7 linked regions of the Homo sapiens genome follow. The protein of the gene in region 4 purifies or fractionates together with the protein of the main gene of each other region. This does not show direct contact. Each region holds a gene or a part of one and is shown on either strand. Other genes may lie near its edges.

The links.
Region 1: the proteins of CMTM8 (region 4) and CHCHD6 purify together in Homo sapiens (affinity purification with mass spectrometry; one large-scale study listed by BioGRID and IntAct). This does not show direct contact.
Region 2: the proteins of CMTM8 (region 4) and HIP1R purify together in Homo sapiens (affinity purification with mass spectrometry; one large-scale study listed by BioGRID and IntAct). This does not show direct contact.
Region 3: the proteins of CMTM8 (region 4) and SLC25A24 purify together in Homo sapiens (affinity purification with mass spectrometry; one large-scale study listed by BioGRID and IntAct). This does not show direct contact.
Region 5: the proteins of CMTM8 (region 4) and SLC25A23 purify together in Homo sapiens (affinity purification with mass spectrometry; one large-scale study listed by BioGRID and IntAct). This does not show direct contact.
Region 6: the proteins of CMTM8 (region 4) and TTK purify together in Homo sapiens (affinity purification with mass spectrometry; one large-scale study listed by BioGRID and IntAct). This does not show direct contact.
Region 7: the proteins of CMTM8 (region 4) and UBXN8 purify together in Homo sapiens (affinity purification with mass spectrometry; one large-scale study listed by BioGRID and IntAct). This does not show direct contact.

The regions. Positions count from the first base shown.
Region 1 is NC_000003.12:126,710,740-126,714,239, forward strand, and holds part of CHCHD6 (MICOS complex subunit MIC25), read left to right. Parts: intron 1-3,500. UniProt on the Homo sapiens protein: Component of the MICOS complex, a large protein complex of the mitochondrial inner membrane that plays crucial roles in the maintenance of crista junctions, inner membrane architecture, and formation of contact sites to the outer membrane.
Region 2 is NC_000012.12:122,838,457-122,841,956, forward strand, and holds part of HIP1R (huntingtin-interacting protein 1-related protein), read left to right. Parts: intron 1-3,500. UniProt on the Homo sapiens protein: Component of clathrin-coated pits and vesicles, that may link the endocytic machinery to the actin cytoskeleton. Binds 3-phosphoinositides (via ENTH domain).
Region 3 is NC_000001.11:108,190,344-108,193,843, reverse strand, and holds part of SLC25A24 (mitochondrial adenyl nucleotide antiporter SLC25A24), read left to right. Parts: intron 1-1,008; exon of another isoform or gene 1,009-1,222; coding exon of another isoform or gene 1,223-1,348; intron 1,349-3,500. UniProt on the Homo sapiens protein: Electroneutral antiporter that mediates the transport of adenyl nucleotides through the inner mitochondrial membrane. Originally identified as an ATP-magnesium/inorganic phosphate antiporter, it also acts as a broad specificity adenyl nucleotide antiporter.
Region 4 is NC_000003.12:32,241,680-32,245,179, reverse strand, and holds part of CMTM8 (CKLF-like MARVEL transmembrane domain-containing protein 8), read right to left. Parts: intron 1-3,500.
Region 5 is NC_000019.10:6,456,993-6,460,980, reverse strand, and holds the start of SLC25A23 (mitochondrial adenyl nucleotide antiporter SLC25A23), read left to right. Parts: upstream 1-1,188; 5' UTR 1,189-1,352; coding exon 1,353-1,508; intron 1,509-2,656; coding exon 2,657-2,783; intron 2,784-3,390; coding exon 3,391-3,478; intron 3,479-3,988. UniProt on the Homo sapiens protein: Electroneutral antiporter that mediates the transport of adenine nucleotides through the inner mitochondrial membrane. Originally identified as an ATP-magnesium/inorganic phosphate antiporter, it also acts as a broad specificity adenyl nucleotide antiporter.
Region 6 is NC_000006.12:80,028,649-80,032,148, forward strand, and holds part of TTK (dual specificity protein kinase TTK), read left to right. Parts: intron 1-2,818; coding exon 2,819-2,911; intron 2,912-3,500.
Region 7 is NC_000008.11:30,757,664-30,761,163, forward strand, and holds part of UBXN8 (UBX domain-containing protein 8), read left to right. Parts: intron 1-3,224; coding exon 3,225-3,266; intron 3,267-3,500. UniProt on the Homo sapiens protein: Involved in endoplasmic reticulum-associated degradation (ERAD) for misfolded lumenal proteins, possibly by tethering VCP to the endoplasmic reticulum membrane. May play a role in reproduction.

The sequences.
Region 1 (3,500 bases), about 94 Mb from region 4:
AATGTATAGAAATATAGTTGGTTTCTGTATATTGACTTTGTATCTTGCAACCTCGTTAGGCTCATTTATTAGTTCAAGTAGGGTTTTTCTTGGGGTGGATTTCTTAGGCCTTTTTACAAGTAGGATCATGTTGTTTACAAATAAAGACTGACTTCTTTTCCAGTCTGGATGCCCTTCTTCTTTCCCTCTTGCTTTGGCTAGGATCTCCAGTACAATGCTAAATAGAAGCTGTGAATGTGAACGTCCTTGTCTTGTTCCTGAACTTAGGGTGAAAGCATTCAGTCTTCCATCATTAAGTGTGTTAGGTGTAGGGTTTTCGTAGATGCCCCTTATCAGATTGGTAACTTTATCTTTTAATAGTTACAGCCACTCCTTTCTCTCTGTCCTTATGTCCTTTTTTCCCTTTATAAGCTCTAAGAGGGCAAATCCTGGATTTTCATGATAGTGTCTGCTCATTAATATATACATGTTGGGTTACATGCTTGGATTAATGAATTGGCAGTCCTTCTCTAGCCAAGCTGGCGATCTTGTGGCAGCTGTGCATGAGAATCTTATTCTTCCAGGCTTTAACACAGACCTGTTCGGGATGTGTGCGGCAGACTTTGTTTTCCGCCATGTGGTTGCCTAGTGAAATGCTTCTGAGCTTGCCTCCTTGACTGTTTCAGTTTGAACATGGAAGTTCCTTATGATATGTTTTATATGATTACTTTTCCTGTTCTTTCTTTTGTTCTTGCTGGATGTTAAACTCTGTGCTTGGGATCCTGTTCACTCTAGAATGTCTGCTTTTTGGTTGCAGCATTCATCTTAGTTGACTCACTTAAAGGCAGTGTGGGAAACAGAAGATCCCAGACCTGGACTTATGCCCTGACACTTCAGAAGGATGTGTCTTTCTCCTTATGTGCAAGATAGAGATATGATGTAGCATCTCCATGCGCCCATTTAGCATAGACACCACGAAGGGGTTGCGTTATAGATCGTCTCTGGTCTTCCACAGCTGTAAAGCTCACCTGGCTGTTTGGATGAGTGCAGTTTGATGGAGCCCGCATCAGGAATTGCCAGCTTGGAAAGCCAGAAAACAGGCAGCCAACTTCTCTGCTGCTTTTCAATGAACAGTATCTGCTTCTGATTTCAAGTCCAACAAATGGTTCTTGAGTACACACTGTGTGCCGGTTTCTGGGCTAGCTGCTTTCACATGTGTTATTCTGTTTGATGCTCCTGAATCCATCACATGTTCTGACAAGTGCTGAGGCATTAGAAAACAAGGTAAAGCAAATTCTGCAGGGAAGCACAGTACTTTAGGTCTCTCTACCTTTTCCACCTCAGCTGCTGAGGAGTGGAGGCTCATCTTAAAGACAGGATGGTTGAAGGCCCAGACACCTGCATGTAGATTTCCCGCTGGTGCGTTCCATTTTTCTGCCTTGGTGGTTCTGAAACTCACTGTGTGTGAGAATGACAGCAGGGGACTGTCTACACAACCACACTGTACTTTAGGTGCAGAAGGAATCACTCTCAAGGGTTTAGTTGAATATCCTTTAAATTTTATCATAATATAGTACAGCGTAACCAGTAATACAATCTAAGTAGTACAAGAGTTAAAAGTTATTTCCACCTTCTGACTTCAGCATATGATCCTCATATATGATGAAATTCCATTACATTCCTCCTTTCTTGTATCACAGTACAATGTTGAAGGTCTCTGTATGTAAAAGATAAATCTATAAAATAATATAAATGTAAGGTTGTTAATTGTAACCCTTACTAGGCTCATCTCGGGCCAGTTCCCACATTTGGAAAGTAAACGTGCTGCACTGGAAGGCAGCCTTGATCCTCCCAGGCTTCAAGTGCTGCCTTTTCCCTCTATTGGAAGGGGTCGCTCCTGCTCTCCGCAGTGGCACTAGTGTCCAGCATCAACCACCGTCTCTGCCCTTCCTGTGTCTGGTAGGAGCTTCTGACCGTTTCTGAGCCTGCTATCCCTTCTGTGCCCTGTTCCTGGCCATTCTCTTTCATCCTCATTCATGCACCCATGACTTCTGGATTCTAAATATCCAACCCAGAGCTTTCTAAATGACCCTGCCAGCACCCCCGTGCATGTCCCATGGGTACATTTAATTGACTGTGTCCAAATGGGACTCACCCGCATTTCTTCTCTGCCCCCTTAGAGATGACCCTTGTCTCTTCTGTTGTGAGTAGCTCTACTATCCAGTCCTTCATCCGGAAAGCTGGCGGTCATCCACGTTCCTCTCTTTCTCTATATTCATGACAAGTCTTGAGCTTTACCTTACAGCAGTTTCTCCGTTTTGTTCTCTCCTCTTTGTCCTTCCTACTCTCAGTTCAGGCCTATACTATCTTCCCCTTGACCAGCTGACAAATTGTTCTTTATTAGCTTGCTTCCCACAAATCTATACTTTCTGGTGCTACCAGGCTATTTTTTTTAAAAAACGCAAATTTTACTTTTGAACAGGTTTCCAGGAGATGGTCATTAAATGCAGACAGTTAAAAAGGAGTTGCCCGGGGAAAAGCTTGTCTCCCTTCCACTGTGTTTTGTCAGTCCTGCTCCCAGAGGCAGCCCGTGACCAGCTTCTTGTGTCCCGGGGACTGTTCAGAGTTGAGGCTGATTGTGTCACATCCTTTCATGTCTCCCCCTTGCCTCTTGGTTAAAGGCATGTTTCCGGGCCTGGCTCACAAGGTCCTTCATGTGTGGGCGCCACTTTCTGCCTTCACTGCGCCTCCCTGCAGGGACACTTGATCCTGCGGGACCCTAAGCTGCTTCATGCATGTGTGCCTGTGATTCTCCTCCTTTGGCTGGCCAGGTGGAAGTGTTGCCTTCAGAAGGAGCCTTTGGTGGTGTCCCCTGCAGACTCTGTGGTCCCCTCCCAGGGCTTAGTGCCCTGGGCCAAAATGATCTATTCCACACTTACTTCCTTTCTGCCCCATGAACAGGGGCCACATCTTCTTCGTCTCTCTGTCCCCAGCACCTAAGCCAGAGCTTGGCACAAGTCAGTAAAATACTTGTTGGATAAAAGTTTAAGCCACTGGCTCAGTTTTTCTTGCCTCAAACTATGACTCCAGAAACTTAATGATATTAATTGATTTTAAGTAATTGCCACCATTTAAAAGTTGGGAGGCTTTAGATCGAGACCATCCTGTCTAATATGGTGAAACCCTGTCTCTACTAAAAATACAAAAAGTTAGCCGGGCATGGTGGTGGGTGCCTGTAGTCCCAGCTACTTGGGAGGCTGAGGCAGGAGAATGGCATGAACCTGGGAGGCGGAGCTTGCAGTGAGCTGAGATCGCACCACTGCACTCCAGCCTGGGCGACAGAGCCAGACTGCATCTCAAAAAAAAAAAAAAAAAAAAAAAAAAAGTTGGGAGGCTTTACATAAAATTTATTTTTAGCTTTTTTGGGGGAACAAATGGAAAGTCTGCCATTCTTGTGTGACAACACTTTGCTGGAGTTGCAAAGTGGCTACACTCTTCAGGTGGCTGTGCAGTCTCATTAC
Region 2 (3,500 bases), on a different chromosome or scaffold from region 4:
GAGGGTGTGGTATCATAAAGGCACTAGTAGGTAGATAGACCTAGGCTCTAGCCTGTGTCCCTGGCAAGTTGCTTAACTTGTAAATCTATGTCCTTGTCTGAAAAAAAAACCATACAGATCGTTCCAGCTATCGTATAGGGCTGTTGTAAGGTGTAAGAGAGAGACCGTGTGGCAGCTAGAACCTGTGACTACGTTAATGACTTAGTAAGGCGTTGCAGGTGGAATTAGAGTTTTTCATCAGCTGAGATGGTCCTTGAGATGGGGCGATTCTCCTGGGCTACCAGGTGGGCTCAGTGTAATCACAAAGGTCTTTAAATGTGGACAAGGGAGGCAGGAGAGGAGGTCGGACTGAGTCCATGTGAGAAAGACTCACTGCCTGCTGCTGGGGAGGAGCCACTAGCCAAGGAGTATGGGCATCCTCCACAGCCTGGAAAAGGCGAGGAAATGGATTCTTCCCTAGAGCCTCCAGGAGGAAACACAGCCTTTCTGACACTTTGCTTTTAGTCCTGTGAGACCTGTTTTAGACTTCCGACCTCCAGAACTGCGAGTTTGTGTGATTTGTTATGGCAGCCATAAGGAACTAATACATCCAGTATGTAAACATGAAAGAGCACCTAGGGCATAGAAGGGCCTCAGCAGATACTTGGCCCAACCGTCTTTCTCCCTTCCCTTCCTCGGCTGAAAAGTTTAACATCTAGAGAAGAAAGCATCTTTGAAGCATATCATGAAGAAGGACTCAGTTAGGAGTACTGGAAATGCTAATGGTGAGTCCTGCCTTTTCCTGATCTGTGAACCTTTCTGCTTCACTGGGCCTCAGTTTCCACTGCAGGCCCACAGGATGGAGATCAAGCCCAGAAGATTCCTCTCAGGTTAGGATGAGAGAAACCCTTTACTACACTGCAAGGCCTCTGGCCACTGCTGAGTGAGCCAAGTCTGGCGGGTGAGCATTAACTGTAGACATGAAACTACCCAGGTGTAAGGGGTTCCTGTGGGGCAGGGACTGTCTAGGGCAGCAATATGTGGAAACAGTTCATAGGTCCAATTTTCCAGGTTGGTGACATACATGCTTAGCATCCCCCGTGAAACCAAAATCCTGTCAAGATTAACATTTATTGACAACTGAGGGCTTCTCAGCCCCGGCACACAGTAGAGCAGTGTTGTCCAGGAGGAACCAGAGGCAAGCCACGTGTGTACTTTTAGATTGTCTAGTAACTACTAGAAAAGTCAACAGAAACAGGTGCGATTAACTGTAATAGCATATTTTATTTAACCCAGTATATCCAAAAGCTAGCCCTTTCAACATGTAATTGCCACAAAAATTATGAATAGGAGAATTTACATTCTTTTTCTCCTACTAAATCTTTGAAATAGGTATGCACTGGACACTCACAGCTGATCTCAGTCTGGACTCACCACCTTTCCAATACTCACAGCCCGCACCGGCCAGCGGCTACCGTGCCGGACAATGCAAGTGTTAGAATCACCTGGTGGCTTTTAGAAAAGGGCAACATTTACGTGTATAGGAGTGATTTGCCCGCAGCATGGCATGGGCGTTGAGCTCGTTGTTCCTGGGCATGCGCACTGCTGTCTCGCCCCGTGACATCCTCTGCTCGGTTCCACCCCATCAGCCCACATGGTGATGCCCTCGTGGTGATGCCCGGCAGGCCGCTGACTTCCCGACCCCTGGGCTGCATATTGCCTCCCTGGCAGAGCTATTCCAGAGGCTGTTCTTGGTCCAGGTTGGGGTGGGAAGGGGCCACCCATCCTTGACCTCCCCCTCCCTGTCTCTGATGTGTTTTGATGCCCATGACACATTCCTGAGCGCCGCTTGCTGTCTTACCATTTGGCCTGTTCCTGTAGCTTTGGGGTGTGCCCCAGGAAGGTCCGAGTCATCTTTGTACCCTCTAAGAGGTGGAGAGATGCCAACTGTGGCCACGTGTGGAATGGTAGGGCAGTCAAGAGCAAGCTCCAGGTTCAGCCCCTGGCTCTGTCCCTTCACCACTCTGCCTCAGTTTCCTTATCTACAAAATGGGGGCAATAATACTACACACCTCCTGGAGTGGTTGTGAAGAAATTTACAGGTGTTCATAGTGCCTGGTGTGTAGTGAATGCCGTGTAAGTGTTGGCTGTTATGTTGTGTTCAGAAGAGCAGGCTGGGCTGAAAGAGAGAAACAAGCTCCCTGTTGAGCTCTGCCCGGTGCCCTTAGATTAGCTGTAAGCGGAGGCCTTGTGTGCTGGGGCGGTTGGGGAGAAAAGTGGATCTGCACAGAGGTTGGGGGGACTCAGGCAGGTGGGGACAGCCCTTCCCTGGAAGAGTGAGCCCAGAGGTGCCACATTATGAAGGCTCTCCAGGGTTGGGAGGATATTCTGGGGGACGACAGCCTCAGGAGGTGCAGACAAAGCCAGCAGGAGCCTTGCCTGGCAGAACTGCTCACCCTCTGAATAGGGACAGGCGCAGACGAGGCCCCTTCTCTGACCTGATCCAGAAGCCAGCCTCCCAGCCAGCGCTGCACCGGTCATTCGCGAATGAAACCCAGCTGGCCACTGGATCCCAGCAGCTTAAAGTGGAAAGCCTCTGAGTGGAGTCCAGGCCTGCTTGGCCAAGGGACAGGGATACCCAGCCGGCTAACCTGAGACGCCTTGGCTGCTCTGTTGGCAATGCCCTTACCCGCCCCCTCCCCGCCCAACTTGGTAATCTGCGATGCTAACTTGAATATCACCTCCTCTGTGCAGCCACCCGCTGCCGTCCTCCTGCCCAAGCCTCTCTGTGCTGCCCAGTCCTCATGACATTATTTGCGCTGCTTCCACATCTGCCCTGACACGCTGTGGCTGGCCCAGCAGAGCGGGAGGAAGCAGACAGACATGGGGTGGGCGCATGTGTAGACCAGGCTCGCCTGAGAAGTGGGAGTGTGTCATCTCCTTGCCGAGTTCCCTGAGCAACTGCTCAGACCTGCACCAGCCACCTACCCTGGGGTCATCAGGCAGGGCCGCGTCGTAAGTGGCTGGATGAGTGGATGCTCAGGGGCCAGTGGTCTCCCTTCTTTGATGCTGTCTTCTTGGTGAGGTCTGAAAGGCTCATGGCCATCCATTCTAGGGAATGACTGAGGCCTGGAGAAAAGTTTATTTGGGGCGAGATTGTTTTTTCTCTGGCTAAAATAAACATGATCCTCAAACTGCAGTAGGTTCATCTGCTTGGAGGTGACTCAGGCTCCTGGCTTTTGGGACAGACGGGTTTGTGGAGTGATGTCACCAGGGCCCAGGGAATGAAACTGCACGACCTGGCTGCCTGTCACTTCCAGAGCCAGCCTGGCAGAGGGGTGACGCAGGAACAGTCCTCCTACTACTGGGTGTCACCCACAAAGCCTGGGGCGGAGGTGGCAGTGGGTCAGGCGGCAACATTGTAACCAGTGTCCTGGGGAACCTGGGCTCTCATGCTCCCCTCGGGAGCTTTCCTAAACGCTGAAATGACGGAGTGGCCAGGACCAAGCAGGCCTGGGTGA
Region 3 (3,500 bases), on a different chromosome or scaffold from region 4:
GGGACCCAAGATCACTGAACTTTTGCCTATTTTGAGATCATCTTTCCAATCCAGCCACTAACAGCTGAAGGATAGGCTTGCCCTGGAGCCATTGTAGTGGTTGGATGAAGATAAAAGATAAAAAACTGTGAGGGGAGGTGTCACAGAAGAAAGGGCCCATGTGGGCAGATTTTCATTCAATTCCTAGTCTTTATTACAGCAATTCTCCAGTGCTGCAACCTTAGAAAAGGATTCCTACAACACAATGTAGGTACCCATCAGCAGCAGATTGGATAAAGAAAATGTGGTACATACACACCATGGAATACTATGCAGCCATAAAAAAGGAGCAAAATCATGTCCTTTGCAGCAATATGAATGCAGCTGGAAGCCAATAACTTAAACGAATTATTGTAGAAACAGAAAAACAAATACTGTGTTCTCATTTACAGGGGGAGCTAAACCTTGGGTAAATGGGGCATAAAGATGGGAACAATAGACACTAGGGACTCCAAAAGGGGGGAGGGAGGGAGGAGGGCAAGGGCTGGAAAGCTTCCTACTGGGTACTTTGTTCACAACCTGGGTGATGGCACGATTAGGAGCTCAAACCCCAGTATCACACAGTATACCCTTGTAACAAGCTGATGGTGTAACCCCTGAATCTACAATAAAATTATTTTATTTTAAAAAATCATTATAAGGATTTTTAAAAAGAAGGATTCCTAGACAGGTGCAGCCAAACAATTTTTTTTAAATGTTGGCAGGCCGCCACCGCCAGTCACTTATGCTGCAATAGCCCATGTCCCAACATTCCCAACCTACTTCTCTCCAAAAGAGAAGCTATACTTTCAGATGGCCCTGTGCTGGGTTCTCCCTGGAAGTTTCTGGGGAAAGGGGCTTGAGTTGCCCCGACTGGACTCTTCCTGGAGTGGGAGCCGGGGCTTCTGATCAGACGTGAGTGAGGCAGGAACTCCGCGGTCTCCCAGCGCAGCCCAGAGTGCGGTCCCACGCAGGTCCCGGGTCCTGCGCGCTCGCGCCTTTGCGCTGAAGCCGTTAGGATGAGCCCTCTCCTTCCAGAGCTTTAACCGATGAAGGTGCATTGTGTTTGGCGCCCCTGAGGAGGATGCTGTCTTAGGCCTCTTCCCACTGGACGTGTGTGGTGGGCAGAGATCCCGTTCGTCGGTCGCACTTCCACCCCGCTGGGGCTCACTCAGGCCGCGGAGCTGCGAGGGAGACATCCTCGATGGACTCCCTCTACGGAGATCTCTTTTGGTACCTGGACTATAACAAGGATGGGACCTTGGACATTTTTGAGCTTCAGGAAGGCCTGGAGGATGTAGGGGCCATTCAATCTCTAGAGGAAGCGAAGGTGGGTCTCACTGGGGCTGTAATCAGAGAGACGTTGGGGCTGGGAGCCCTGGAGAGGCATTGGGCAGAGAGGGCAAAATTTACATGTTGTCAAGCTTGACCTGGGCCCACTGCAGTGTTCAGGTCGTTGACCAGCGTTACCGTTTATTAAGAATAACAACACAGCTAACACATTTCTCAAGTATTTTTCTCCGTTTTCTCCTTGGCTGTAGTAAAATCTCCAACTTCAGATTGCTCTCAAGATGTTGGCTACATACAGCCTTGTCTTAGGAGTCACCTTGTTCAATGTGCTCACCTGTCATTAGTCACCCAGAGGGGCGTCTAGGCTAAAGATGCGCCCTCCCCAGTTCAGAGAACTGGAATAATCACTCTACGTGTATTTGGGAGTGGGGTGGTGATTGGAAATTTTCTGATGTTATGTTTCGGTTTCTGTTCCTGGAAGGGGGCAGTGGAAGTGGCTTTTACTCTCGGGTTTCACTAGTGCTGAGGTTTCCTCATAATATGCCTTAATTGATAGACCCTAGTTATCAGTACCGAGCTTAGGCTAACCCTTCTCTTCCCCAGAAGGCTAACCTACAGGCTCCTTCTCAGCATGTTGTGCTTCGTACATACTCCTATTGCAGTATTTCCAAGTCATTTTTCATTTGGAATTTATTATTGTATATAATAATTACTTTATAAGTATATTTGCTCTTTGGATGTTTGACCCGGTAGACTGGGAGATCATGAGCATGTGGACTATTGAGTTTATTTTGGATAATTGGTACTTCGTGCCCAAAAAACTGTCAGTTGAGTTCTGTCATGTTGAAATTTAGTAAAACTCTTTCTATTAGCCATGTGAACTTTGGGAATATTGAAGCATCCATTCAGTCATGGGTCAGTTCTAGTTTGAGCACATTCTATATTCCAAGCCCCATACCCTGGTATCCTCATCTGTTATATCAGAGGCCTGGACTGTGTACTTTCTGTGGACCAATTCAGTCCAAAATGTTATTTCTGCAAAGCTTATCTGGATTTTTAATTCCTAGAAAAAAGCAGTGTTTCTCCTTTTAAAGTTAAGTGTTCTTGTTCAGGTGCAGTGGCTCATGCCTGTAATTCCAGCACTTTGGGAGGCCAAGGCAGGTGGATCACTTGGGGTCAGGAGTTCAAGACCAGCCTGGCCAATATGGTAAAACCCCATCTCTACTAAAAATGCAAAAATTAACCGGGTGTGGTGGTGGGTGTGTGTAGTCCCAGGAGGCTGAGGCAGGAGAATCACTTGAGCCTGGGAGGCAGAGGTTGCAGCAAGCTGAGATTGCATCACTGCACTCCAACCTGGGTGACAGAGTGAGACTCCATCTCAAAAAGAAAAAAAAAAAGTTAAGTGTTCTTCATATTTGTTTAAAGACACTCTTATATTTAGATTTGCAAGTGTAAGTTGTATTTGTTTATTTGATACAAACTAGCCTTTCATAAGAAATTCTGGGTTAGCTATCAAGTCGAATCTTTTGAAACACATTTCTTCCTTATTGAAACAAAAGGTTTGTAGAGCTGTCTTGCATTTTTGGCAAGGACGCTTTGTGTACCTAGTGGTGACTGAGGAGGGTTCACATGTCAAAACCCAAGGGAGGGGTGTCCCCAGAGAATTCTGCACCAACCACACAGAACATTCTGTTTCAGAGGAGCACCATTGTGACTTTTCCTCAAGTGGCAGTCACATCGTTAGGAGGTTTTGATGTGAGGTCTCTTCCCACACGTCTCCACCTCCCCAGTAGGAAAATTTGTTTATATAGACAAAACTCAACTGATTAAAAAAAAAAAAAAGAAATGATACTTACATTGTCGTGTTAAGATACAAAAGCAATAACTTTTTATTGTGAAAATAGTCTGTTTTTGAACAATATATTGTTTTGTTTTTTCCTGTGAAAGTTGAGAAACTAAATATACGAAGAGATAATGGTCAGACCATAAATAAAAATAGAACTTTGACTCAAAATTTACAGCAGTCTGCCCAGAAAACCAGCCCTTTATCTAAAATAAACAGACCAGGAAACCAGCCTGTTATGTCAGACTTATAGGAAGTCAGGTTGCTATCTCTAGAGACAATACACAAAGCTATGCAATAACTGCTGTAACAGCCCCAAATGGTCAGAATTTGATTAATAACCGACAGC
Region 4 (3,500 bases):
ATATCTTAGTCTCAGGAATGGGATTGCAAAGGTTTGAAACAGACACACTCCTGTATCCCCAGATAAAGAATCAATGGGTCCATATTTCATGACATCCAAGAAACCATCAATTATAAGCAGTATCCTGATTCAGATATTAAAACATGAACAAAAACTACCCATTATAATCAATAAAACACAGTACGTTATTTAAGGTGATCATTAACATTTGGAATTTTTTTAAAGTATTTTTAGTTTAAAAGGCTCATACTACTGATGACAGTTTCAACCAGTAGAACTTTGGGGAAGATAACTTCAGACTATGTCACAAAACCCTTAGATTTATATACCCTTTAGCCCAACAATTCTACCTCAAGGAACTTTTCCTCAAGAAAAGCACTGGACAAATGTGGAAAGACAGACAAAGAAAAAGATTGCTACAGCACTGGTTATGCTAGTAAACCCTAGAAACACATTAGTTTTAAAATAGAAAACTGGGGAAACCAGGTATGGTACTTCTTTACGACAGAAAACGGTAATAATTCAAAAGGTCCAAGACCCTGAAAAATGTTCACGGCATAGTAAAAGCAAACAGCATATCACAGATCAGTTAGAAAAAAATCATGAGAAAATATATGCAAAGAAAAAAGTATAAAAGGAGTTTTAGAAAGAACTGAGAAAATGGAAAGAGAAAATTCGAATTAAACAAAAAATCTTCTGGCCGCAACGGCTCATGCCTGCAATCCCAGTGTTTTTGGAGGCCTAAGGAGGAGAACTGCTTGAGGCCAGGAGCTCAAGGCTAGCCTAGGCAACACAGTGAGACCCCCGTTTCTAAACAAAAAATTAGCTGAGAATTGGCAGTGCATGTCTGTAATCCCAGTTCCTCAGGAGACTGTGGCGGGAGGACTGTTCGAGCCCAGGAGTTCCAGGTTGCAGTGAGCTATGATTGTGCCACTGCACTCTCCAGCCTGGGTGACACAGTGAGACTCTGTCTCAAAAAAACTCCTTAGGTAAGATCTTGGTTGGTGTGCAGGGCAAGTGCAGGTGGTTCTGCAGCCAGAAACTATCAAACCTTCTAGCTCCCTGGACCTGACCTTCCACAGCTCCCTCTCCTCACGTACTTGTCAGGGCGGCGCAGGGGGCAGCTATGTTGATCAGGAGTGAATTCAAAGTTGGTCTACCATGAACTGGAAGATGCTTGAATACTCATCCCTGCTGCTATAATATCTTGGCAGAGAAACCATTAATTCTCTGTCTGGCATTTGCTGGAGTTAAAATATACCAAAGGAAAAGGCTGGAAGCAAAACAGCAAAACTGGAAGCTGAAGAGAGGCATCAATGAGAGAAGGAGATAACTGAAGAGTAATCCAGGGTATTTTGCTAAGCATTTCATGCACAGCTGTGTTGTTTGGGTCCTGACAACTCTATGAGATACTTTCGAATTGAAAGAATGGCTCACACTGTACATGGTGAAGAGCAGAACCAGAAACTGAACACAGGTCAAATGCATTCAACCACAGTGAGCTGTACTGCCTTCCTGAATTCACAATGTAAAAGTCAGTCTGAGTGGACTGCAGCTGAGAAGAGAAGACAATTATCCAAAAATGTGTCCGAGGATACACTCCCAACCTATACTTTTAAAAGAATGTGATTTTTTTTTTTTTTTTTTTTGAGACAGGGTCTCACAATGTTACCCAGGTTGGAATGCAGTGGCGCAATCCCAGCTCACTGCAACCTCGACCTCCTGGGGTCAAATGATCCTTCTGCCTCAGCCTCCCGAGTAGCTGAGACTACAGATGCCCAGCACCATGCTGGGCTAATTTTTGTATTTTCAGTAGAGATGGGTTTTCGCCATGTTGGCTGGGCTGGTCTCAAACTCCTGGGCTCAGGCAATCTGCTGGCCTCAGCCTCCCAAAGTGCTGGGACTGCAGGTGTGAACCACCACGCCTGACCAACAATGTATAAATGTTTATTTTTATAAACTTTTAAGAGAGCTATCATTTTATTTTGGTTAGGTGAGGTGGCTCACACCTGTAATCCCAGCACTTTGGGAGGCTGAGACAGGTGGATCACTTGAGGTCAGGAATTCGAGACCAGCCCAGCCAACATGGCGAAACCCTGTCTCTATGAAAAATACAAAAATTAGGTAGGCTTGGTGGTGCACGCCTATAATCCCAGCTACTTGGGAGGCTAAGGCACCAGAATTGCCTGAACCCAGGAGGCAGAGGTTGCAGTGAGCTGGGATTGCACTACTGCAATTCCAGCCTGAGTGACATTATGAGACCCACTGCACTCCAGCCTGGGCAACTGAACCAGACTCTGTCTCAAAAAAAAAAAAAAATTGTATTTTGTTTACTAAAATACCTTTGTAAAAATGGGGAGGAGTCTCCTGAAACTTACGTGAATTTTCCTTATTTGAGAGAACACACCAGGTGCCCAGTACACTGGGAGAAAACACACTCATATGAAGGCACATCATTGTGATATTTTAGATCTCTGGGAAAAAGAAGGTTCAACACATTTCCAGAAGTCAGGGGGTAGAGGGAGATAAATAATTGAAATAAAAATTTTTACAGCCAGGTGCAGTGGCCCATGCCTATAATCCCAGAACTTTGGGAGGCCGAGGTGGGCAGATCACTTGAGTTCAGGAGTTCGAGACCAGCCTGAGCAACATGGCGAAACCCTGTCTCTACAAAAAATACAAAAAAATCATCCACCAGGCATGGTGGCCCATGCCTGTGGTCACAGCTGGCTTGGGAGGCTGAGGTGGGAGGATCACTTGAGCCCAGGAGGGGTAGGTTGCACTGTGATCATACCACTACACTCCAGCCTGATGACAGAGTAAGACACTGTCTCAAACAAAACAAAACAAAATTAAATCAGAATAGCTAAAGGACAATAAAAGAATACATTTTAAATTCTGAAGAAAAACATTTTCAGTCTAACACTCTCTACCTAGTTGAACTAGGAATTGTGTATAGAATCAAGCTATTCTGAAAGGTGCAAATTTCCATTTCCACATGCATGCTTTCTTAGAAAACTACAAGAGGCTGTGTGTCCCCCCAGTGGGAGCAAAGCAAGACAGAGGACACTGGACATGGGAAGCAGAGGATCCAACCCAGGAAAGAAAGGAAGAGAATCTTCAGAGTGATGGTGCAGGAGAGCCCAGTCGGCCAGCTGTGTGCAGGCCACCAGGCCAGAGGCTCCCAGAGAGGCCAGTCATGAAGACGATTCTGACAGAATACCTGATGTCTCTCAGCTTCTTGATAGGAGACTTAAACAACTAGGGTTAAATTAGTGACTAAATATCTGGAGAAATTATGAAATGAGAAAAGAGAATTACTAACACCAGGGCAAACAAGAAATTGGGCAGGAAAGGAAAAGCATTCATAGTCTACGCACTGGGTCAGTTGTAAGTGGTATTTACAGTGTCATAGGTCAACACTGGCTGCTGATCTAACCCAAATCACCTGAAGACTATACAGATGCCCCTTGACTTAACAATGAGGTTACATCCTGATA
Region 5 (3,988 bases), on a different chromosome or scaffold from region 4:
CCAGCCTGAGCAACAACAGCGAAACTCCGTTTCAAAAAAAAAAAAAAAAAAAAGATAATTAATTCTTTCTAGGGTATAGAGTGATGGTTAAGGATCCCAGATCTCTTTAAACCCTGTTTTGCCCCTTAGTGGTCATCAGGACTGGGGAGAATGACTTAACCTCCGCTTCCTTATCTGCAAAGTGCGAACGCCAGTACCACCTACCTTATAGGGTTTTGGCAAAGACGACTCGAGAGGTGAGTAAAAGCCCTGGCATGTGCAAAGCACTGAATCAAAGTGAGATTTGTTATCGAGTATTCGCTGTCAAGTGGTCTGGGCTCCCTTCCCCCTAATGGTGGATCGAGAAACTGCGCCCGAAACTAGCAGTAGGGACATTCCGCAGGTGCAGCGAGTGCGACAGGCTGGGGCCCTGCCTCCAGCGCTCGACCACTGGGATCCTCAACCCCGCGCCCGGGTCACTGAGCCACCCCCTCCCCACGCCGCTCAGCGTCTGATTGCGGCCGCGGCCCCTTTAAGATCTCCTGGCAGGCGGTGGGACTGCGGGCTGGAGGCAGTCGGGGGTCTGCGGGGAGGCCCCGCCTAGGTGGGAGAAGAGGCGGGGCGGGCGGGCTCAGCCCAGGAGGCGCTGACCAATAGGAAACCGACTTTGCAGCCGCGCCGCGCGTTGATTTTCTGTTTCCCAGTCAGAGTGGGAACCGAGAAAGGAAGCGCGCGGGCGGGAAGAAGGGACAGTGGGAGAGCATCGCTCCTGGATCTTCTGTTTCTGCGGCCGAGCGGGGAAGGTGTAAGGCGCGGGCGGGCAGAGAGCGAGCGAGATGGTGCACGGTTCTTGCGTGCGTCTGGGAAAAGCGAGAACTTGAGTTCCTGAAGATTAGTGGGTGTGGCGGGGAGGTCAAGTGGAAGGGGATTATGAAACCCAATCCCCGACAGCGCTCTACCTTGCCCCCTTGGGCAAAGGGGGAAAGGGTAAACTGAGGCACGCAGAGGCGGAACTCTGAAACCAGACCTGAGACCACTGAGCTCCCTAGCCCGTCTTCCCAGAAGGAACTCTGGTGTTCCTCGGCTGTGCAATACCAGACCATCCCAGACATTCCCTCCCCACGCCCCCAGCTCCGCCCTCGGTCCCCTCCCCCCAATGCAGGTCGGGGGAGGAGACGCAAGTTCTGGCGCGGGCGGCGACGGCTAGCCGTCACCACCTCCCGCAAGTGCCAGAGCCGAGCGGACTGCGCGGAGGCTGCGGAGCCGGCGGCCGCGGGAGCTGACCCTGCGGGGTCCCGGGGGGGGAGGGGGAGCCGCGAAGCCCCCACTGAGGCCGCCGCTGCCGGGCCTCCCCTCCCCCCCGGGCGGGCGCCATGCGGGGGAGCCCGGGCGACGCGGAGCGGCGGCAGCGCTGGGGTCGCCTGTTCGAGGAGCTGGACAGTAACAAGGATGGCCGCGTGGACGTGCACGAGTTGCGCCAGGGGCTGGCCAGGCTGGGCGGGGGCAACCCAGACCCCGGCGCCCAACAGGTACCCCCACCCCCAGGGACCTCCTCCCCTCCCGGCCCCGCCCGCTCCCGGTTACCCAAGCCCCTGAACTGGGCGGCCGGAGCCACCAGGGACTACCTGTGGCTGGACTCCAGAACCTGTGTCTCTGTCTCGTTCCCCCTACCCACTCGTGTTTGGCCTAACGGGATCGCTCAAGACAGGGACGCCGAGGCCCCAAGCCTGCAGTTCCGCGGCCAACACCCGATCCCCCTGCTGCGGGGCAGGGGGCGTCTGCCTGGGAAGAGATGGGGGCGCTTTCCTGCCCACTGCCCGGGACACACCCTCCTCCAGACTGCACAGCCCATGACGTGCCCTGCTCTCACCTCCAGGAGACACACCCTCCATCCTCTGGGCACCTACTGCCCTGGCCTGCAGCTGCCCCGATCCCTGTGTTTACATTCCCTGGCCTGCCCTTTCATGGGCCGTTCACGGGCCTGGCTCACTGTCCCGGGCTGCCCCAGCCAGGGACCCAATCCTGTCTGCGGTCACCCGCAGCTGGGAATGCACCTATAACAAGACTTTCCTCCCGCTGCCCCCACCTCCACTTTGCAGGTCCTTCCCACACCTGTAGCCCCAGATCGCTCTAAGAGAACCACAGCAACCCTGAGAGCAGTCCAACCTCCCACTTCCCAAATGGGAAAAACCAAGGCCTCAGCCACTCCGCTTGGTTCTCTCCTGCCCCACATCGCCCAGGGCTTCCTCCAAAGGGAACCCCTGGGTCCCCCATGTGGACAGGGTTTTTTAAGAGGCAGCTGGGTTCAACAGGAATGAGATACCTAAAAAAATAACAAAAACTAAAAACAAGAGACAGCTGGAAGGACAGGCTTTACAGATGAGAACTGAGGTTACCATTTCCTGGTTCTGTGACCTTGAACTGGTGACTTGACCTTGCAGAGCCTCAGTTTGCTCACCAGGAAAACTAGACCACTCACACCCACCGCACAGACCTGTGGTGGCTGTAGGGATCTGGCTGAGAAGTTAGCTGACTGAGGGAGAAGTGGGGTGACGTCTTCTATCCCCTTCCTCAAGGCGCTGGGGGCTCTGGGTTCCTAAGGCATAAGGTGACATGCGTCCCCTCCAGATCAGGAGCAGGTTCCTGGAGCCACCTCTATCCCCTTTCCCTCTGTCAGGGTATCTCCTCTGAGGGTGATGCTGACCCAGATGGCGGGCTCGACCTGGAGGAATTTTCCCGCTATCTGCAGGAGCGGGAACAGCGTCTGCTGCTCATGTTTCACAGTCTTGACCGGAACCAGGATGGTAAGGTCGGGCGACCTGCCTGCAGGCCCCAAGGGATAGGGCTGTGGGGGCCCTAGAGACATCAGTGGGGTTAGAACTGGCAGCGCTAGGAGGAGAGGGGGAGGGCCGCTTCTCCCCGATGACTCATAGGCTATTTCAGGAGCACTCCTCACCCCCTAGCTAGGTGGTTCGAGGCCCAGCCAGCCCATCCCACCTCCTTTCCCTACTGGGGCAGAACCCCGATAATTACCCTTAGATTTTTCTATGGGGCAAAGATACCCTATGCTGTTCCTGGGTCCCCTGTGGGACAGAGATCCCCTCATAGCAGCATCTGGGTTGTGGATATTGCCTCTCAATCCCCCATGGCATAGAGACCCCTACAATTACCCCTGGATTCCTTCATTCATTTACAGAACAGAGAAGCCCCCCCAGTATTTCCCAGTTCCACCTCTCTGACCCCAGTGAGTCAGGGGTCCCCCCACAGCCCTACTGCAAACCTCCTCCTAGGTTTCTGGAGCCCCTGATCTTGCTAGACCACCTCCATTCCAAGCTGTTCTGATCCTTGGTCCTGGGGTTCCCCAGGTGTCCTCACACGCACATCCTTCCCCACCTCCGGCCCCCTCCCCAGGTCACATTGATGTCTCTGAGATCCAACAGAGTTTCCGAGCTCTGGGCATTTCCATCTCGCTGGAGCAGGCTGAGAAAATTTTGCACAGGTGAGTCGCTGGGGGTCTGGAATCCAAAGTAACTCAGGACACAGTGACCCCTTGGCCATCTCTGTCTTCTGGGCTCCAGACCCAGTCCCAAGGAGGATACAGCTGAGAGGTTGGGGCTTTGAAGTCAGACAGATCTGGCCAGGCGCAGTGGCTCACATCTGTAACCCCAGCACTTTGGGAGGCTGAGGCAGGTGGATCACCTGAGGTCAGGAGTTGGGGACCAGCCTGGCCAACATGGTAAAACCCCATCTCTACTAAAAATACAAACATTGGCCAGGCGTGGTGGTGCATGCCTGTAATTCCAGCTACTTGGGGAGGCTGAGGCACGGGAATCCCTTAAACCCAAGAGGTGGAGGTTGCAGTGAGCCAAGATCAGGCCAGGACACTCTAACCAGGGTGACGGAGTGAGACTCCTTCTGGAAAAAAAAAAAAAAAAAGAAAGAAAAATTCAAATTGAAGCCAGACAGATCTGGGACCAGTTGCCTCTCTTAGCCCGTTTCCCCCTCTACA
Region 6 (3,500 bases), on a different chromosome or scaffold from region 4:
CTAGTGAGCAGCTTCATTTTGTTTGTTAGTATACAATTCATTTGGAAATGTAAATTTTCAAAAATATCAGAATAGCAATATGAGGTACTGCTAGAATGTATTATACTAATAACTAAACTAAGAGGAAAGATTTTTTGCTGATGAGGCAAAAGTTGGTTTCTAGTAACTGTCCTAGAGGCAGCTTAATACTGGTAGAAAACATGGGCCTTGGAGACACTGGGCATGAATCTTAGCCTCACTACTTACAGTCTGTGTGATCTTTTGCAAGTTACCTAAATTTTCGGTGCCCATTTCATTATCTATAAAATTAGTAAAGCTAACTACCTCCTAGGATGGTTGTGAAGATTAAATTAGTTAATATAGACGTAACTCCTAATACAGAGCATGACACTTAGTAAATCAGAAATGTTAGTAGCAATTGTTATTTAAATAAAACAATAAAAAACCCATGAGTAATTAACTATAAAAATCAACTGATAAAAAAATTAGCTGACAGAATAAGAACAGTGGTTGTCAGGGAAGGGAGGAAGAATGGGGAGTTACTGTTTAATGGGTATAGAGTTTCAGTGGTATTTGCACCACCATCCATCACCAGAACTTTTTCATCATCACATACTGAATGTACTTAATGCCACTGAATTGTACCTAAAAATGGTTAAAGTGGTAAATTTTGCATTATGTATAATTTGCACAGTTTGAAAGAATAATGGACAAAATAATGAGCTGACAGTAGATACTAACTGGAAAGAGGTGATAGTGTTTTAAGGATTGAAACAATATAATAAATTACAAAGGAAAAACAAAAATGATCCAGTTTGTTCATGCATTGATTCAAAACACATTTATTTAGCTATTACTAGTGTCAGGCCCTGTTTGAGTTGCAATCCAGAAGACGAGTCACAGATGACAAGTGAAGGGGCTTGGTGGAGCCTTCTAGAAGAGGCCAGTGTCAGAAGAGAACTGAAACGAGGCCACAGTGTGGCTAGAGGTCAGGAAGGGGAAGGAGTGAGGCCCAAGGTTTGCTGGGCCCTTAAGTTTTACCCTAAGAGGGTGGGAAGCTTTGGAAGAGGTTGAAGCAGGGAAGTGAAATGATCCAATTTGCATTTTGGAAACTCTAACCACAGTGAGTAGGGCATACTAAGGGGGATGCGGGAAGTCCTGTGGAGGAAACCAGAGTTCACATTAGTGTTGAGTCAGAAATAAGAATTACTTTATTCTAAAAACTGTCAGCAGCCGTGGAGAAAGGACATTGAACTGCTTTCTTCCCTTGGCAATGTTCACAGTTTTAAATATGAAAGGAAGAAGACAGAGAAGGCACAAAAGGAGGAGTGGGGAAACCTTGATGAAATTACAACACATACATGTTTAGAAGCCCAATACTTTGTTACAGGAAATATATATAGACAATGTATCTCAATCCTAGAGGTGAAAAAATTAGAATACTTATCTTTTTATTTAAATAGGAGATTACATGAGAGATTCTACCATTTGGAACCTAAAGCAGGCCTTAGTTAAATTGAGGTTTATTCAGACCTTGTTTAACTTGGTTAATCAGCTAATCAGGAGGTCTTTTTGTTTCACCTTCTTTATCAGCTCAGAATAAGTCCTCTCAGCACTCCATCTGTTCAAAGCATTTATAGGTACACAGAGAGATCCTCCAATATAAGGGAAGGAATGATGGGGCTGGTTGTATAGTACATCAACTGAAAGTTTGCTGGGGAAGACGCTGAGGTTCTGAAAAATTAAGTAACTTGTTGAACATCACTCAGGACAAAGTTGGGGGCTGTATTAATGAGTTCTTACACTGCTATAAAGAAAAGAGGTTTAATTGGCTAATGGTTCCACAGGCTGTACAGTAGGCATGATGCTGGCAATCTGGTTGGCTTCTGGGGAGGCCTCAGGAAACTTTCAATCATGGCAGAAGGTGAAAGGGAGCAAATGTCACATGGCTGGAGTGGGAGGGAGAGAGAGAGTTGGGGGCAGATGCCACATACTTTTAAATGACCAGATCTCTTGAGAACTCTCAGAGAAGCACTGAGGAGGAAATCTACCCCCATGATTCAGTCACCTCTCACCAGGCCCCGCCTCCAACATTGGGAATTACAATTTGACATGAAATTTGACAGATCCAAACCATATCAGGGACATTGCTGAAATTTGCATTTGTCTCATTGACTTTGGAGCTCTTAGCACCTTAGCACATTGCTTCCTTTATAATATAACGCTAAATGAGAAAGAAGAATACAGATATAGCCGGATGGTAGTGGCATGCCTGTAATCCCAGCTACTCGGGAGGCTGAGGAGAAGAATCGCTTGATCCTGGGAGGCAGAGGGTGCAGTGAGCCGAGATCATGCCACTGCAGTCCAGTCTGGGAGGCAGAGTGAGATGCTGTCTCAAAAAAAAAAAAAAAGAAAAGAATGCAGCTATAATTATGTGTGTGTATATGTACATATGTAAGTAAAGAGGTATAAGGAAAAAGAATAGAAAAGAAAAATGAAAAATATAATTTTATATTTTATTTTTATATATATTTTTAAGCTTATAAGTTTGCAGATTGCATATTAAGTGGTTTTTTCCTCCTTAAATTTTCTTTTTAAGTCAAAACTAGTTAAAGGGGGAGACCTTGGAAGTTTGTCTACATTATTTTTTAAGGTTTTTTTTCTTTGATTAAGTAGAGCAAGTCCTTTTAAAAATATTGTAACATTTCTAATTAAGATTTAAGATAATTTCAAAATGGGGAGCAGTTGACTGTACCAAATGTAAGCTAGTTTCTTAGGTATATTGATTAACTTTTATTTATATATTTTACTTATTTAGGTTTTAGCATCTTCTTCAGCAAATGAATGCATTTCGGTTAAAGGAAGAATTTATTCCATATTAAAGCAGATAGGAAGTGGAGGTTCAAGCAAGGTAAGTATCTTAAAATATTTACGAAATAAATAAAAATATTTTAAACTTTCTGTTTTTTTGTCTTTTTACCTGTGAGGGCTGCTTTTCCTTTACTTCTAGGGGCGATGCTGCCCTTGAGCCAAAAAGCCATCTTAACACCTGCCTTTCTCTTCCCGCTGCCCCTCACATGTGACATATCCTCTTTAGATCTCTTATTCCCAGTCTTCTGCCTTTCCTTTCAATGTCCTGTGCTTCTAAACTTCTTCTTTAATAACAAAAACATTGACATGGGGTAGCGAATGACCACTATGTATTATCACAAAAGAATCAGAAATTTCTGAGTCAGAATGTGATGTAAATTGCTAATATGTTTAGAATCATTCAGCAAGGATTTTTACTAATGGATTTTGTTTTCTTTTGAGTTATTCATTTCAGAAACAGAATTCAGTAACAAATGAATTTCTGGAATTAGATTATTTTCTAAATTTACCTGAGTTCTAAATTTATATCGTTTTACATCTCTGGATAGAAGGCATCTTAAGCATTATCTAAATTTACCATCATTAATTGTCATTCAATTAAATCTACTTCCATTAGATTTTTGCCTTCA
Region 7 (3,500 bases), on a different chromosome or scaffold from region 4:
GCCTGGCTAAGATGGTAAAACCCCATCTCTACTAAAAATACAAAAATTAGCCAGGTGCAGTGGCAGGCGCCTGTAATCCCAGCTACTCAGGAGGCTGAAGCAGGAGAATCTCTTGAACCCAGCGGGGTGGAGGTTGCAGTGAGCCTAGATTGCGCCACTGCACTCCAGCCTGCGCGACAGAGTGAGACTCCGTCTCAAAAAAAAAAAAAAAAAAGAATTGATATTTTTTCTTTGTTTTTTTGAGACAGAGTCTCACTCTGTCGCCCAGACTGGAATACAGTGGTGAAATCTCAGCTCACTGCAGGCTCTGCCTCCTGGGTTCACACCATTCTCACCATTCTCCTGCCTCAGCCTCCCGAGTAGCTGGGACTACAGGCGCCCACCACCCCACCCAGCTAATTTTTTTGTATTTTTAGTAGAGACGGGGTTTCACCATGTTAGCCAGGATGGTCTCAATCTCCTGACCACGTGATCCGCCCGCCTTGGCCTCCCAAAGTGCTGGGATTACAGGCGTGAGCCACTGCGCCCAGCCGAAAATACTCAATTCTTTTTAAGGAATTTGATTATGTAAAAATGAAAAATATAATGCTTACGAAGGGAAGCATTCCTATTAACTTAAGAACATTATCAAGCCCTATCTTGTGAGTGGCTAATAGCTGTTATTAACATGAGTGTATAATTTTCCTTACTGGCCCTTCTAGGGAATAGATTAGCAATCAGTCACTTTGGATTAGTGCCCAGGTTTATTATACATGTTGTTCATTCAAATCTTCAATCCTTAACTAAGTTAATTCCAATTGGAGCTGGAAAAGATTAGAAATAAGAAATCTGTTTTTACTGGCCCTTAGGGAAAGCTGGGAGGCTGTCTATTCCCTGAAAATAGTTTCTAAGATATTGCTTCTCAATCTGAGATTTCCTGGTCCCATAGTGGAGATTGAGCAGGGGAATCAGATTATTGAACTATCACTGACCTTTGAAAAAGATCGATATGAACTAAACGGACTGATTAAAAATTCATGTTTGTGTTTTGTTAATGACACTGTCTTATGCTGATGGCAGATTTTACTTGACAGTCACATATGCTTTTGATACCAAAGGAAAACAAATGAGTTATTTAGCAAATGCAGGTAAGGTTAGATTAAATGTTATAAAATATACTCTATGGTATTAATAAAGAGTTCCTGGAGATGAAGTCATTGGTAACAAATGTTTTTTTTGTTTGTTTTTTTTGTTTTTTTTTTTTTTTTTGAGACGGAGTCTCGCTTTGTCACCCAGGCTGGAGTGCAGTGGCGTGATCTCGGCTCACTGCAAGCTCCTCCTCCCGGCTTCACGCCATTCTCCTGCCTCAGCCTCCCGGGTAGCTGGGACTACAGGTGCCCGCCACCACGCCCGGCTAATTTTTTGTATTTTTAGTAGAGACAGGGTTCCATCGTGTTGGCCAGGATGGTCTCGATCTCCTGACCTCATGATCTGCCCTCCTCGGCCTCCCAAAGTGCTGGGATTACAGGCGTGAGCCACCACGCCCGGCCACAAATGTCTTAATGAAAGAAAATGGTCTAAATATCTGGATTATTTTATTTTTATTTTTTTGAGACAGAGCCTCACTCTGTCACCCAGGCTGGAGTGCAGTGGCACAGTCATGGCTCACTGCAATCTCTGCCTCCTGGGTTCAAGAGATTCTCATGCCTCAACCTCCTGAGTAGCAGGATTACAGGTGTGCGCCACCACGCCTAGCTCATTTTTGTATTTTTAGTAGAGATGGGGTATCACCATGTTGGCCAGGCTGGTCTCAAACTCCTGACCTCAGGTGATCTGCCTGCCTCAGCCCCCGAAAGTTCTGGGATTACAGGCGTGAGACACCACACCCAGCCCAATATCTGGATTCTTAATAGATTAATGGAAATAGGGAAACATGAGTAAATGACAAAAGCAACCAAAGTGAATGGTTTCTGGCAGTCACCTAGGAGTGTGAGTGACAAAAAGTTCATATTCATGTTAAAATGTGTATATGGGCCGGGTGTGGTGGCTCACGCCTGTAATCCCAGGACTTTGGGAGGCTGAGGCAGGCGGATCACAAGGTCAGGAAGTCGAGACCATCTTGGCTAACACGGGGAAACCCTATCTCTACTAAAAAATACAAAAAATTAGCGGGGCATGGTGGCAGGCGCCTGTAGTCCTAGCTACTTGGGAGGCTGAGACAGGAGAATGGCCTGAACCCAGGAGGCAGAGCTTGCAGTGAGCCAAGATCGCGCCACTGCACTCCAGCCTGGGCGACAGAGTGAGACTCCGTCTCAGAAAAATAAATAAATAAAATAAAATAAAATAAAATAAAATAAAATAAAATAAAATATGTATATGTTTGAAGCAAAATAATTTTGGGGTCTTACTGAATTTTCTTTTCTTTTTTTTTTTTTTTAAGATGGAGGCTTGCTCTGTCACCCAGGCCAGAATGCAGTGGCACAACCTCAGCTCACTGCAACCTCTGCTTCATGGGTTCCAAGCGATTTTCCTGCCTCAGCCTCCCGAGTAGCTGGGATTATGGGCACCCGCCATCATGCCTGATAATTTTTGTATTTTTGTAGAGACGGGGTTTCACCATGTGAGCCACGCTGATCATGAACTCTTGACCTCAAGTGATCCACCTGCCTCGGCCTCCCAGTGTGTCGGGATTACAGGCATGAGCCACTGCGCCCAGCTGATACATGTTAACATTTATCCTGTTTTTATATGTATGTATGTGTATATGCATACACAATCATATATATATATATATATATATATTTTTTTTTTTTTTTAAAGTGACAGGGTCTTGCTTTGTTGCAATGGTTGGCCTTGAACTTCTGAGCTCAAGTGATCTTCCTGCCTCAGCCTCCTGAGTTGCTGGGATTACGGACATGAGCCACTGCATCTGGCTTGCTTTTTTACATAGTGCATTTTTATATATTAGTAATATTTTGGAACATAATAGAAGCAAAATCCTTTAAGTATGTATAGATTGGGAGCTATTATCTCAAATCCTATTTTTATGATTAATTTTTAGCACACTTGCCCAAAAATGTTTATTAATTGAACTATTTTCATTATAAACTCTTTATAGATGTATGAAGAAAAGATATAAGTAAGCTTAGATGTGTGTCTAAACTCTGTATTGAGAGGAACTCTTCTCATTGACACTTTTGCTTGTTGAACATGTTTACATTCCTCTTACCAATACTTTTCTTTAGATTCCTGATTTACCTGAAGAACCTTCTCAAACAGCAGAAGAAGTAAGTCTATTTTTCTCTTCGAAAATTAAACTTATTTTCTATTTTCTTTGCTTAACATCCATTAAATATGTCTTATCTAAACTTGGGTTTAGAAAGAAGTGATAGCATAAGTGTTCATGTGATTATACTGTAACTAGGTCTTTTTTAGAACATAGAGACAGGGTCTCACTATGTTGCCTAGGCTGGCCTTGAACTCCTGGGCTCAAGTGATCCACCCGCCTCAGCCTCCTGGGT